Linked DNA regions of Homo sapiens: region 1 is linked to region 2. A link means that fine-mapping ties the variant in region 2 to the expression of a gene that starts in the linked region. Tissue or cell type: whole blood. Region 2 holds a variant in brackets; the other region holds the start of a gene. All regions are shown on one strand. Distances are from middle to middle.

Region 1 (6,914 bases), 23 kb after region 2:
AACGGCAGCAGGGCACAGAGGACAATGAAGCTTTAAAAGGCCCCTCCCAGCACCTGTTCGCCAGCAAATGGCAGGAGCCTGGCCAGTGAAGAAGTTGCAGCGTCTGCCGAAACCAGGTGCCTCTGAGGGGGTACCCTCAGCCAAGCATTTTTGTGGTGAGAGCCGGCTGTCTGGTTGTAGATGGCAGGCGGCGACTCAGCAGCTGCTGCTCCCACCTCCTTCCACACTGCTGTCCCCTCCTGCTGCCCAGTTCCAATCACCAGACCCCTCCTCTCCACTCCCGCCATCATCCCTCTGGCTCAACTCACTCCTCCCTGCCCCAGAAGACTCTGCACTGTCCAGGTGGAGGTGATGGAGACCAGGGGAGTCCAGGAGAGGCGGGCACAGAGCTCCCCTCCACCTCCACTCCCGCCTTGCCCTGGACTGACCACACAGGCCCAGCTCACCTTTACTCCCCGCTGCGGTTCTGGCCTCTCACTGACAGGTCTCTCTGAGTCCAGTCCAGCATCCAGGCCTCCCTGATACAGCTCCCCTTCCTCTGAGAGCCTGGCCCTGAGCAGCCATGTAGATCGCAGACCAGCCTTCCCAGTGGGCAAGACTTCTGGCTTCTGCCCTTGTTTCAAGGCAAAGCAATTTGGGACAAGAAAACCATTTCCAGTCCTCCTGCTCCCCCCTTACACCTTAAACATACATTCTCTGCTCCTGGAACCCCCTGAACCACTCCTCAACTTCCCCACCAACCAGGCTCACCTCTAGCCTATGGAAGAGAAGATCCACAGAAACAAAGATCTTCTTAGCTATGGTTTTCGGGCCAAACGTGCTCAAAATGGGCACTGTCCAATATCCCGATTGCCTGGGGCTGGGAGTGCAATGCAGAGGGGCAGACCCCTCTGGGTGCCTGCTGCTGCAGGGCTGCTCTGGAGGCTCTCTACGGCTGCCCTCACCTGTGCTGTCCACTGCCCCAGGCCTGTGTGCCACATGTCACTGCTGGGGACATAAGGGCCCTGTGAGACAAAAGGGTCCCAGAATCTTTTGGGTCATAGAGTCCTTTGGAGTCTCTTGAAAGCTTAGTGCACTCTCCCCAGAAAATGCATGTATGTGCATGTTGTTGCAATCTGCATCCACGTGCAAACACACACACAATTTGCATATCACTGCAGGGAGATGAGACAGCTCTTGTCCATGTACTCCCAGATCCCCAGATCTTAGGTTTAGAATCTCTGCTGAAACCTGTCACAGCAAGAAAGAGGAGGCAGAGGAACGTTGTAGAGCCTTGCATGTGAGTTTTGCTGTGGCATTAACTTGGCCTGTGATCCTAGCGTGTTGCGCCGTCTCTTGGGCATCAGTTTAGCCAGAGCTGTTGTGGCAGCTGATAGAGAGTCTTCAGGGCTCTTCCCAGCACTGCAGCTATGGGGCTCAATGACACCCCACCCCTGCTTCCCAAGGTCAGGCAGGGCAAAGGGAGGGGGTTCCGGGCCTCTTCCTCAACAGTATATCCTAGGGCAGAAGGTGGGACAGCCAGAAAAGGAGACCCCGGGAACTACAAGTTTCTCTTTTACAAAAATAAGAAAACTGTTGAAGCTTTAGGAAGTGCAGCCACTTCTTATTTGATTTTCTTTATTTTAAAACAATTTCCCCAAACATACTCTGTGAGAGAATAACCACCTAGCCTTTGCAAGGCTCTGGGTTTAAAGCTCTGCTCTGTGACTGCCTGGCTCTGTTACCTTAAGCAAGTCCAGTTCCCTCTCTGAACCTTGGGCTCCTCATCAATTAAATAACTATAATCCTCGATGACTTCTGTGAAGACGAATGAGGAGACCTGTAAGATGGGCCTTGTGTTGGGCTCACCCATAATGAAAAGAGGCTCCCATTACTATTCTTATTGACACTGGGAGTTGGGGGCTCTGGAGAGACTGTGGAGCCCCAGAGATGGGAATGTGAGGCCTGCCTGCAGGAGTGGCCATGAATGAGGAGAGAGTCTGAGCTGACACCTGAAACCAGGCCCCAGACCCCAGGGGCCCAGGGCAGAGGGCTTTCTGGCAGATCCCCTAGTTAGGTCTCCCCTTTGAGGCTTTGCACGTCCAGAATCTGAACTCTGACACACACCCAAGTTTCGTTCATGTTCTTTGTTATCTGTCATGGTCCACTTGGTCCTGACCCAGGGCGACCCTGGACCTTGATTCTGTTCTCGACCTCCAGGCTACCCACTGGAGCTTCATGGTGGAAATACAACCCAATCTCCTGAGTTTCAGACAGACACTTTAATCTGTAGCATCAACCTTTTTGTTGTCAAATCACCAGCACTACACACTGAGAGAATTATGGCTAGAACTAATGACAACAGCCTTCACATACACTGACAAAGTGCTGAAACAGCCCATGACAATTTCCGGCCAGCATTTTTTTAACCTAAGTTTAATGAGTTTCATCTCTCCTCTTCCCTCCCTTCCTCTTTCTCCTCTGACCCTCTCCCTTCCTGTCTTCTCCCCTAACCTGCTGTCCTGGCAGAAGTAGCTAAGGAACCACACAGAGGAACAGAAGGCAGGATGGTCTACATTTACCTGTTACTTCACCAATTCACTTCTAACTTAAAAAAAAATGGTTTCTGGCAACAAATCCTGATTGACACCTTAGTACTGTGGGCAGTTAAACTACAGCAAAGCCAGCGAGGGGCTCCTCTGTGAGTGCAAAGCATAGCTTTGGAGTCTAACCTGCTTGGGTTCAAATTCCAGAAGCCCAGCCCTTATTTGCTGTGCGACCTTATTTAATTCCTATGTGAAATGGGGCTCCTGAAGCTGTCCTTACTGTGTTTTAAGAAAGTGCTGGCCCTGGCCTGGGCACTGATTCTGGTGTGAGAGGAGGCCTCCCTCCCTCCGCCGTGCCAGGTTAATGAAAACACTGAGGCATGTTTTGGAAGTGGGAAGTGCAGGATGGGACCGGAGTCAGGAGCCCAGAAGAGCAGGGCAGCAGGCAGGCTGACCTTCGGAGACTAAGGGTGAAGAGCAAGAGACTCAGGGGCACAACAAGCCCTGGGTTCAAATCCTGGCTCCATCACCAACTCATCCGGTAAAGGTGGACAATTTTATAACTCTTTAAGCCTCAGTTTTCACATCTGAAAAGGGGATAACGAAAGTAGGACTCTCACTTGCTGTGAGGAGTAAGAGGCATATCGTGTTAAAGCACTTGGCCCAGAGCAAGGCGAGCCCTCTACAGACAGCGATTGTGAGACAGACCCCCCCTGCTGCTATTATCTTGGCGTTCGATTTCCATCAGTGAAATCAGAGTTGTGCCAGAGGCCTCTAGGCTCTCTCCCCAACTCTAGGATCAGTGCTTCTAGGAAACTGGTTAAGGACAAGGTGAACAAAAAAGGTGTAGCCAGTGGCCGGGCTCATCTGTCTTGCTCAGGTTGTAGCCCCTAAATTGCTTAACAGAGGTGCCAGGCGCAGTGCCCCCTCTCAGCAATGAGCCCGAGGCCCGCAATGCGCCAGGCTGGCGGGGGAGGGACCCTGCGCGCTGCGGCCGAAGGGCACAAGTGCCCAGGCTTCAGCGTCCCTGCCTGGTGGCAGTCCTGGGTCGGAGGGGATGCTCCATGGACGCCCAAGCACTCTCCTGCTCGTTCATCACTCACCGTCCAGTCATCGCGCAGTCCAGAAGCCACTGCATGTGTCGTGTCCTCGCTTGCACCGGAGCTGCGCCCGCAGCGCCTGCTGACCCCAGGCTTCAGCTGCTCGGGGCCAGGCCCGCCCCTCGCCCCGCCCCTCGCCCCTCGCCCCGCCCCGCTCCCCGCCTCTCGCCCGGCACGGCCAAAGGTGCCGCCCCGGTCTCTCCGTCCCGCCCCGAGCACGCCCCTCACTCCGCACCGGCCAATGGCACCGCCCCGTCCGCCCCGCTCTGGGAACGCCGGTAGGTTCCGGGTGCAGGGCGGTGGCCTAGGGGCGGCGGGGAAGATTTGGGGCCTGCGACCTGCCAGGTGTCCCCAGGCCATTGTTCAGCTCGCCGCGCGCTCCCGAGTTCCCGAGGGCGCCCCGGGACGCGAGGAGAAAGCAGCCCGACTCAGCCCCGAGAGGTTCGGTGTGCGGGCAGCGGCCAGGGACTTTGCGGGGTAGCGCGGACTCCTGGACTTCCAACAAGGGCCGCTGCGCAGGCGCTGCAATCACTGCAGGCACTTGTCTGCATGCCTGGTGGGGCTTGGAGTCTGGGGAGGCTTATCAGTAAAGCCCAGAGCATTTGCTATTTATTGCTCAAGGGGCACCTTTGTACAGTCTGGCCGTTTGCTTGGCATGGCCTCTTAGAACTCCTTATTGTTTAAGAAATCCGATCTGGTGAATAAGAAGTTAGTCTTTCTCTCCCAGTCACTGCCTCCTGGACGAATATTTGCCAGCACGGAGGCAGAGAGGACAGAAAACCACAAGCCATTTGGGGAACTGGGAACAGTTCAGTGTTTCTGGGGTGTGGGGGTGTCAAGGTGGGGGATGGGGTTGATGGAAAACATTTGCAATTTCTGCTTTACCTCACGATTCCCAGCTCTGACCTCTGGACCTGTTCTCTCCCACCCCTAACATAAATCATTTTAGTTTCATTCAGTGTGCGTTTCCTAATATTTTTAGGGTCTCATGGCCATTTTAGAATCTGATATGGATCTTCTAGAAAGTGCAGGTGGCCATATGCACCAAAATCAGCCTGGGATTTGAGTCTCATGGGTCCCTGAACTTCGACTTAGAGGGGCTGTGCTAATGCTTGTATGGCTGCTGTATGACTTATGTTGGAACCCCCACCTGCAAAAAGTGACAGGACTGAAGATACCCAGTCCAGGGGCCCTCCCGTTTCTGCGTTTGCTTGAATTTTTGGAGAATGGCCCATCCTTTGACAGCTCTGAGGCTCCCTGTGGTTGGTGACTTGTCATGACACATTTGCTCTTCCACAGCCCTCATCAAAGCTGAGACAAATAATCGGGTGCTTCCAAAGGTTTTTTAAAAGTGGGTAAAATTCAATATAACTGTCAACCTCTGAGCATGAGATCCTAAGAATTTAATCACTCCTGATAGGAGAAGTAAACATAGCACCAGGGTGACATAACAGTTTCCCTGGGCTCTCCAGAACTCGAGTGTGAATCATTCTCTCTGACCTAATTAATGCTGTTCACAGGGCCATGACTGGCTCTGAGTGAGGACTGGGTTTGGGACAGCAACCCCATGTGTCCTGTGCACCCATTGTGGGCTCAGACACTATGCTAGTGCTTTACATTGGGGATCCCATGCAATTCCCCCAGCACTCCTGGGCAGTTGGTGTTACTGCTTGCATTTTTTAAAATTTCCATTTTTATTTTAAATTTAGGGGATACACGTGCGGGTTTGTTACAATTGTACATTGTGTGGTACTGAGGTTTGGGATTGATCCTGTCACCCAGATGGTGAGCATAGTACCCAATAGGAAGTTTTTCACCCCTCGCCCCGCTGTCTCCCTCCCACTTTTGAAGTCCCCAGTGTCTATTGTTTTTATCTTTATGTCTAGGTGAACCCGATATTTAGCTCTTTTGCTTGTAAGCGAGAACATGTGGTGTTTGCTTTTCTATTTCTGCATTAGTTCGCTTAGGATAATGGCATCCAGCCACATCCATCCTGCTGCAAAGGACACGATTTTATTCTCTTTTATGGCTGTGAGTGCTTGCATTTTACATCAGACACAGGTGTCCATTGTCAGCGTCCTCCCCTCAGAAGGGGAGGGTCCATTGTCAGACCCCTCAGAAGGAGGGGTCACCTTTTCTTTCAGGGTTCAGTAGAACTGGGTGTGGTCTCCAGCTCACTTATGGTGGAGGCTACAGATACTGTTGGTTGCCAGCCAATGTCCATTTCCTTCTTTGGAAAAAAGAAAGATAGGAAAGAAGGAAAAGGACAAAAAGGAAGGAAGGAAGGAAGAAAGGGAAAGAGGGAGGGAGGAAGGAAGGAAGGACGGAAGGAAGGAAGGAAAGAAGGAAAGGAGGGAAGGAAGGAAGGAAAGGAGGGAAGGAAGGAGGGAGGGAGGAAAGAGGGAATGGGGAAGAGAGGAAAGAGAGAGGGAGGGAGGGAAGGAAAGGAGAGAGAAATACCCACTTGTCTGTAGCAGCAACATGCCAGCCCCTAGTTATGGCTCATGCCCACTTGTATTTTTCATACTCTACTTACAACCCAATAGTGGGTCATGAAATTAATTTAGTTGATGATGTGACTAGTACTTCAAAAATGCAAGGGAAAATACCAGTGTACAGCACAAATAGTAAATATAAGTTGTGTTTTGTGGAACTTTTTGTTTGCATTGTTTATGTTTCAGTTATGTGTGCTTCTTACTGTGGGTTACAGTTAAAAAAAACAAAACAGCTGTCTAAGTCTTGACAATCCTTTTCATAGCTTTTTTTCAGTGAAGCTAGAAGTGGCCATACGACCTACTTCTGGACGCAGAGATGGGGGAAGGTGTCCTGGGGGAGGAGAGATCTGAGGGATGGTGAAGATAACTTTTGCTTTTCTGGTAGAAAGAACAGATGTCTCTCCTGCCTGCCTGTCTCAAATGAGGACATGATGTGTAATGTCTGGAGCACTGGCAGCCATGTTGAGATCATAAAGCAACATGTCCGCATGCTGAGGCTGGCAGAGCATAAAGATCAAAGGTGTCTGGATCCTTCTTAACATCATGGAGCTTCTGCACCAACCCTGCACTGCCTACTCCAGACTCCCTACCATGGAGAAAAATTAGCCCCTATTTCTTCAAGGCAGAGGTTGGTAAACCTTTTCTGTACAGGGCTGGATAGTAAATATTTTAGGCTTTGTGGGCTAAATGGTCCGTGTCACAACTACTCACCACTACTGGGGTAGTTTGAAAGTAGCCATAGACAATATGTAAACCAAAGGACATGGTTGTGGTTCTCATAAAACTATTTTAAA
Region 2 (7,496 bases):
GAGCTACTGTCCCAAATGCTTAAGACACTATTCTGTGTCCTTGAAAGCAGTACTTTTTTCTGGAAGAATGGATTCACATTGCAAGGGCAAATCTGTCACTAGGAGGAAAAGCTGCCCTCACTGGGTGACAGGCTGAGACCCCATGTTGTCTGGCTGAGTAGCTCTTCTTGATAGTGTGGTTCAGTTGGAAATGAGAGGCTGCGATGAAAACCCTCACTGTTCATTTCAAAGGCTGCAGAGTGCTCAGGACATGCAGAGAGCTCAGTGTTCCTATGACACTGGCAATCACTACAATAAGGTTTAATGTACCAGACACACCTCTTAGTGATGAATGAGACCCTTCGAGGAGAAGCGAATGTACCAATGCTAAACTCCACCATTCAGTACTTTGAATCATGGAGCAAAACATCCCTGCCCCCACCCTTTTTTTGGTAAGGAACATAGAACTGGAAAATACCTAAACCCACGCACATATTTTGGAAAATTTTTGAATAATTCCTTACACTAGCATATCAACATTTATTTGAATGCTAACAATGGGTACCCAACACATTACACACTAAACCCCTTTTGGAACAAGATTTAAAGAATACTCAAGTCATGTCATGTGTCCTTGGGCTAATCTACACCTTTGTTAATCTCTGCCTAACTTCAATCCTGGGTCCCCTTTACTCTCTCAGGAGACTCTACTTTGGAATAGTCCTGGATTTTTCCAGATTTAGCAAAGGCAACCCTATTGTCATTCATTCACTCACCACAAGCCTAGCAGGGGGTGGAAGGGAGATCCTGAGATTAAAGCAGGGTCCCTTCAGCTTGCCCAGCAGAATTCCAAAGTAGACATTCCAAAGTCCAGGGCACCCTAAGTGTGGCTTGAATGGCCCCTGGATAGCCTAACCTGGGACACCTGCTCCTTCAGATCGGACCCTGAGACCCTCCTCCTGAGCCCCCTCCCTGCCATAAGTCATCCTCTATCAAGAAGGGCAGCTGCTTCAACTGGAAATCTCGGCTTGCATTTCCCAGTGCTGAGGGAAAGATATGGCCTGTCACAAGACGCTCCATCCAGGGCCTTGCCCAGACAGCCAATCATTCTATTTACAGTAACAATCAACTTCTCCTGCTACAGTTCAGTTTGTTTATAGAATGATGTAATTTGGGGAAAGAAAGCTTTTCCTGAGGTCAGTACAATGCATCCTTGGACAAAAGGCTGTGTGCTGGGAATCTGGGGTCGTCCAGGTTCTCTGGGGCACAGACACATGTGCCCTGGGCACACCCCTGCTTAATTATTCGGTGAGAGTGATGGCTGGATACACAGTGTTCCCAGGGATCAACCAATCGAGTTCGGGGGGAAGCCTCCTAGAAAGCGCCCTCATTGAAGACACGGTCAGCGTTACTGTCTGCCCAGGGCATCCCCAGCTTACTTGCCAGAATTCTGTGTGACTTGTGAGGATGCACTGACAGTGAGCATGTGCTGGAAAATGCTTAGGTCATAAACGGGGCTGTTATGTGGATGCAACCTGGTTTTTCCTCCTGAGGGCACAGGAATGCCAGCAGCCCCCACACAGGTCATGGTGCTTGCTGTGCCTGTGCTCAGGCCTGGCTCCCCATGCGCCCAGGGGAGAGGCCAGGCTGGGGCATCACCTTATGATTGTAGAAGTGGCCGTTGATAGAGAACCGGTGTCGCCGGATGCGCTGGGCCTCACCGGGGGCGCGGCACTTGGGCCTCCTCTGGCTCATGCAACTGGCGTCGCTCTTGGTCCGCATCAGCTGGGGGGCCTCCTCTGCCTCCTCCAGGGGCCCTGCATGAGAAATGGGTGAGAGAATGGCAGGGTGGGTGATGCTGACAGAGCAACTGCCTGCTGTCGGGAGATCTGGCACCCTAGAGCCCTGTGGTCACGTGCACTGGGGCAGATGGGGACGTGAGGGCCATTCCTGGACTGGAGGCTGGATATTCCCAGCTTGCAGATAGGAAGGTGAGACCCAGACAGGGTAACCTGGGTCACAATGTCACATGGCCATACCCCTCTTGGTCTCTGTCTTAGGGTGCCCATGGAGGTCTTTGGTGGCCCCAGCCCTGTCTTCTGAGCCCCTGCTCTGAAACAGGCCCTTCACTGAGGGCTAAAGGAAGGGGAATAAAAAGGATGAGTGAGCAGGTACAGAGGGTGAGGACGAGGTCGCAGAGGGAGGTGAGGGGCCAGGAGAGCGCAGTGCCTTCTGTGGATGCTCCTGTTTCCCATAGCACACACAGGGCGGGGGACTCAGGCCACCCCCACACTGTCACTGTCACCTCCCAAGCCTCTGCTCACTTTTCCATAAAAAGGAGCGAGAATGAGGGCAGAGCACCTCACAGGCAGGCACCTGGGTAGGGGTCCAGCAGGTGAAGCCCCTCGTTGGCTGGGGCACAAAGCTGTCCTTCGGAGATTGTGGTTGTGAGCCAAGCCCCTCTGCTCCTACCCCGGATGAGGCAGGGGTCTGGGCAGCTTGCGGGCTCCGCTTACCCGAGCTGTCTGTGGAACTCTCAGCCTTGTGCACTGGCTGAATGCTTGGCCCCTGGGCTGTGATGTTCCCGTTCTGGGGCGATGGCTCCTTTCTGAAAACAGACAACTGCAGGGCTGAGATGGCTGCCGGCAGAGAAAGGGAGCTCAGGCCAAGGAGAAGAGACCAGCAGCCCCTGGGGTAGGACACAGGCGGGAAGCAAGGCAGGCTGAGGTGAGGCCTGGATTTCAAACCAAGAGAGTCAGTCTGAAACAATAAAAGAAAAGTAGAGGCCTCCCCCCAGCATCTGCTGGACGGAGAGTGAGCCTGGCCCTGCAGACCTGAGGGCTTGTGCTGGGCTGCATCGCACAGACACACGGACACATGAACATAGTCAGGGCCTGCGCATTCCTAGACACCAGGCTTAGCCAGGCCAGCAGCTGTGTGCCAAACAGGCTCGCTGGGCTTCCCGAAGGCCTAGTGGGGTGTCAGGCAGGGGCCACCTAGAAGGGCCCAACCTCCAGGCCTCTTGGCAGGATGAGCCCCAGGCCAGGGTAGCTAGTGCTGGGCTGGAGAAGGAGTGGGTATGATGGGGCACAGCCCTGTAGCCCAGGGGACCTGGGGAAGAGAAGACAGATGGGATCCTGGAGAATACACGGGCACAGCCGCGACTGCTGTCTGTGAGTGCTTTACCTCGAAGAGGGGCACATGTGAGTCACACTTGCAGCCTTCCTAAGGAGTCTGACTTTATGCTCTAATTCTGTGTGCCTCAGAATTCGCTGAGTGACTGGGGACACCTAGGTATGTGCTGGGGCTGTCAGGGTGGTGGGTGCTGTCACAGCATGGGTTTCATATGAAATCTGAAGGGGGCAAAGCTCTGAATGTGTGCCCTCTACAGGAGTTACTACTGCAGAAGCAGGCAAGGCCCAGCTACTAACTGCGTCTTTTGGGAGTGGGCCGAGGAGGAGATAAATGTGCATTGAATGGTAAGGCAGGCAGGAGACCATTTCCTCCTGACAGAAACATTATTCTGATATTAAACAAATGTAATGTGAAATTCTGATAAATTTATTTTTAAAATTTTGACATTAAAATGAAAACAGAGTAGTAAGAGGCTAAATTCGTGTGAATTTTAAAGATAGAACAAGAGATGGCGAGACATGTTCGGCTTGCATAGGTGTTGGGAGCCCCCCTGGCTGTAGTCGTCCCTTCTTGCCAGCAAGGTGGCTTGCAGGAAGGTTTGAGAAACAGAAATAGAGGTCATGGGAGCCTGGAATGTTCTCCAGGAAGGAGGGAGAGGCCACCCTGGGCGAGGCTGTGGACTGAGGCAGTCACAGGGCATGGGGATGAGGCTGGGTCACCCTCCTGTGCCAGTGTCCCATAAGGGAACAGGGCTCCCACCCTGAGGCTCGGGATATCCCCAACCCGGGAGCTCAGGCTGAGCAGGTGTCACAGAAGCCACCGGGTACTCACAGAGGGCAGCTAGGCCGTCTGGGCATCCATGAGGTGGAGGGGAGGTGCACCTGCTCCCGGTCATCCTGCATCTGCAGCCGGATGGGCCGCCTCAGCCCCCAGGCAATGTTGAGGAGCCCCTCGATGATCAGAGTCCCTTCTTCCTGTGGGGGTCCACACATCAGCCCTTCCCCCAGAGCAGCTGCCTACCTTCCCTGTGCCCCCTAGGGATGGGATGCTCTGAACACTCAGGCCTTGCACATCCCTCCTCCTGAGTGGCCCCATCCCCTCAGGAAGGACCATCAGCCACTACGTGCCCTGGGGCGTGTGACCAGGCCCTGTGGGAGGGAGCCTGAGATGTGCTCAGCTCATGCCTGGCCAGGGGCACAGCGCAGAACACAGTGGCTGAGTCAGGTGTCCCACAGGAAGCCAGCTGCTGGCCGGCAGGCACGTCCACACCGCGGTGAAGAAGTGGTTCCAGGGACGCACAGCCTGTCTGCTCATGCCAAGCAGGGGACCTCTCTGCCCACACTGCACCTGGGAGGGGGTCCTGCGCCACCAGGTCCTATGGCCACCAGGCCCGGCAGGGTCCCACACCCACCAGAGGAGAAGTGGGCACTCTCTGTCCTAGCTGTGTCTCAGCCTCACCCTTCTCCCGGTGCCTTCCAACAGCAGCAGCGTCCACTTGCCAGGGCTGACAAAGGGTCTTGCTTTTCTCACCACTGCTTAGACATCACTAGCCCTATATCCCATACCAGAATTTCTACAACAGCCTTCATCCCATGTCCCCAACCTCCCTCGGTTTCCCTAGGTCTGCAGGTGACATGGCTTCTCTCCTGCTGCCAACCTGGGGCCCTAATCAACAGAGTCCTCTGCACGCACCTTGCTAGTAGTGCTGGTTGGCACCCCTTGGGCCCTTGATTCAGTGCCTCTGACCTATTCCAGGCCTCTGTCTCTGCGAGACCACCCCAGGCCTCTGTGCCAATCCCGGTCACTCTGTGTGTAAGCCTGGCCAAGCTGAGTCATTTGCCAGAATACTTGCCAGCAACCTC[A/G]GCTGCCCTCTACCCAGAGCCGCAGTCTCGAAACTACACACTCCTAATGTGCTCTGACACTAGTCTTCCCACAATTAACTTTGAATATCATTCTCTCATTGCCATCTCAACCAACATTTAATTTTATTATTTATGTTTTATTGTGATAAGGACATTTAACATAAGAACTACCCTCTAAACAAACTGTTCAGTGCACAATACTGTATTGTTCACTGTAGGCACAACGTTGTCCAGCCCATATCCAGGACTTACTCATCTTGCATAGCTGAAACATTATATCAGCTGCACAGCAACTCTCCACTTCCTCCTCCCCTGCCCCAGTCCCTGCAACCACCATTTTCACTCTCTGCCTCTATGAGCCTATTTTAGATTCCTTATATAAGGGAATCATGCAGTATTTCTGACCCATATTTTAGATTCACAAATCCCATTTCTCTCTCCTCGTTGGCACTAAAAGCCCTGTGAGAACAGGGACGCCATGGAAACTTCTTTGTATCCCTGGCAGCACTCAGGAAGACCCTGCACAATGTGGATTTCATGGTAACTTAGAAATGGGGTTTCTAGGTTCAAACATCCTGCCATCCACAGAGAAAATAGTGTATCCAAAGGTTATCAAATATACACACAGCTTCCAGATATGACCTTGCACTATCTGCTAAAAAGGAAAACAAACAAGCAGAAACCAGAGCTGTTTTTGATACTCACTGGTGCTCTACAAGCACAGATGTGTCACTGAGCTTCCTATGAAGGAGAGGCCAGCATGGATCTATGGAGTTCAAAGGTCTATGGGGGGTTCTGTTCTTGCCTCTTGGTCTCGGGTGCCTCTCAGTGGAGAGAGCTTGTGGGGATGGCTCACTCATGGAGACCCACTGCCCTCCAGCCCCACCCTGGACGCCAGGCAGAGGAAGATGGAGCAGACACAGCCCTGGCCACGAGGGGCTCGGGCTTGGACGCAGAAGGAGATGCAATGGAGCTTCTTGGAGGAGGTGCTTGTGCACTGCACCCTGGAAGACGAGTGAAGGGGGACAGGGAGGAAAGCTGAGCAGGTGGCCCTGACCTCAGGACCTGCCTGGACAAGGTCGGGGGCTTGGCTGTACTGGGGACAGGCTGGCTCTCCATGACTCAGGCCAGACATGCCTACACAGGTGATGTGTGTGCCCCCAGCATAGCCGCCCACTGTTCACCCTCCCCCAGCTTGGCCGCATCTGAATGGAGGGAAAGCCCCGTCAGCCAGCAGCGAATTCTCCGCCTCCCTCCCTCTTTTGGTCTCTTGACTAATCTGCTCATTGCTAATAAATTCAAAGAAGAGCCAGCGAACTAGACAAAGGGTCTACAAAAGATATAAGAGCTTGGGCAAGGTGAGAAGTGCCATGTGCCACTGAAATCCTGGTCACTGTCTCAGGCACTCCCTGCCCCGATGCCTTTGTGCACATGGAGTTCCCACCTAGAATTCAAGAACTTGGGACTGCCGGTCCCTCTTGCTTGCCTAGGGAGTCTGGGGTCTGCCCAGTACTCAGAGCTCAGGCTTGGGCTAACTCTCAAGACTCCTCTTTCTCCCCCACCTGCAGCACAGGCAGGCGTGTTCCAGGTGGGGCTGTGGCTGGGGCAGAGGATCTGTGGCCTGTCTGGGGAGTGCAGGAGCTTCCCAGGGGCTGCCTCTCTCATCCTTGGCAGCCTCCTTTGCTGGCATGGTCACTCCTGGACAGATGCAGTGGCTTTCTAATGTTGCCCAGGTGCTCCTTGGCAGCCCCCCAGCCCCAGCCCCAGCCCAGTCCCAGCAGCTGCAGCGATCCTTTGAAGCAGAAGCCAGACTGCAGTGCCCTTGTTCAAACCCTGCAGTCTTTCCCTCCCTCCTAGAGGGAAACACAGCATCCACCCCAAGGTCCACTGACCCCCTCCTACATGGGCCAGTCTGCAGGCCCCTTGCTGTGCCCTGAGCATGTCTGTCCGGCGCGCCCTCACCACAGGGGCTTTGCACGTGCTGCCCCTGCCACCTGGAATGTGCATTTTCCCATTTTTTTCAGGTTTCTGCTCCAATATCTGCTCTTAGGGAAGACACCCCTGACCACTGTACCTGTGGCGGCAGCCCACCACAGCATGCCACTGCGCTGCTTTCCTTCAGGCAGTTCTTGCTGTTGCCTGAATCACAGCACCCATTCATCTCTGGCTTGATCTCCTCCCTTACTAGAATATGAGCTCCAGGGGGCCACACCTTTGTCCGCTGCTACGTTTGCTGTGCTTAGTGCATTCACAGCACACACTAGCACCTCATATCTGGTGAACAAGTAAACAAACAAATCCTCCGAAAGCACCCCATCTGGGGTGTAAGAAGACCAGGGTCAGACCCCGCAGACCGCCCTTGGTCCCTTGCGAGCAGGGTGTGTCTCTCCTAGGAGCAGGCCTAGGGACCCAGCCTCAGCTGCCTCCAGACTGGGGTCCTGTGCTGCTGATTTTTCATCAAAGTTGCCAAGGACCTGGCCCAACTTCACAGGAGTCATGATGGGGTGGTGTAACACAGAG

The links. PIP is the estimated chance that this variant, and not a neighbour inherited with it, causes the effect.
Region 1: RASSF4 starts here. The variant in region 2 is fine-mapped to the expression of RASSF4 in whole blood (INTERVAL, PIP 0.92).

Annotation. Positions count from the first base shown.
Region 1 is chr10:44,956,581-44,963,494 of GRCh38, reverse strand. It overlaps RASSF4 (Ras association domain family member 4), which reads right to left and starts at 3,693. Exons shown (of 11, transcript NM_032023.4): 1 at 3,629-3,693. It overlaps TMEM72-AS1 (TMEM72 antisense RNA 1), which reads left to right and starts at 3,806. Exons shown (of 8, transcript NR_033842.1): 1 at 3,806-3,903. RefSeq lists a silencer at 3,723-3,942 and an enhancer at 3,720-4,014.
Region 2 is chr10:44,979,113-44,986,608 of GRCh38, reverse strand. It overlaps RASSF4 (Ras association domain family member 4), which reads right to left. Exons shown (of 11, transcript NM_032023.4): 4 at 3,946-4,088; 5 at 2,496-2,587; 6 at 1,639-1,796. Among named protein-coding and RNA genes, the nearest start is that of DEPP1, 4.1 kb to the right of the region's middle. RefSeq lists enhancers at 2,207-2,707, 5,981-6,050, 5,499-6,200, 6,201-6,904. The variant A/G (reference allele first, on the strand shown) is at 4,977.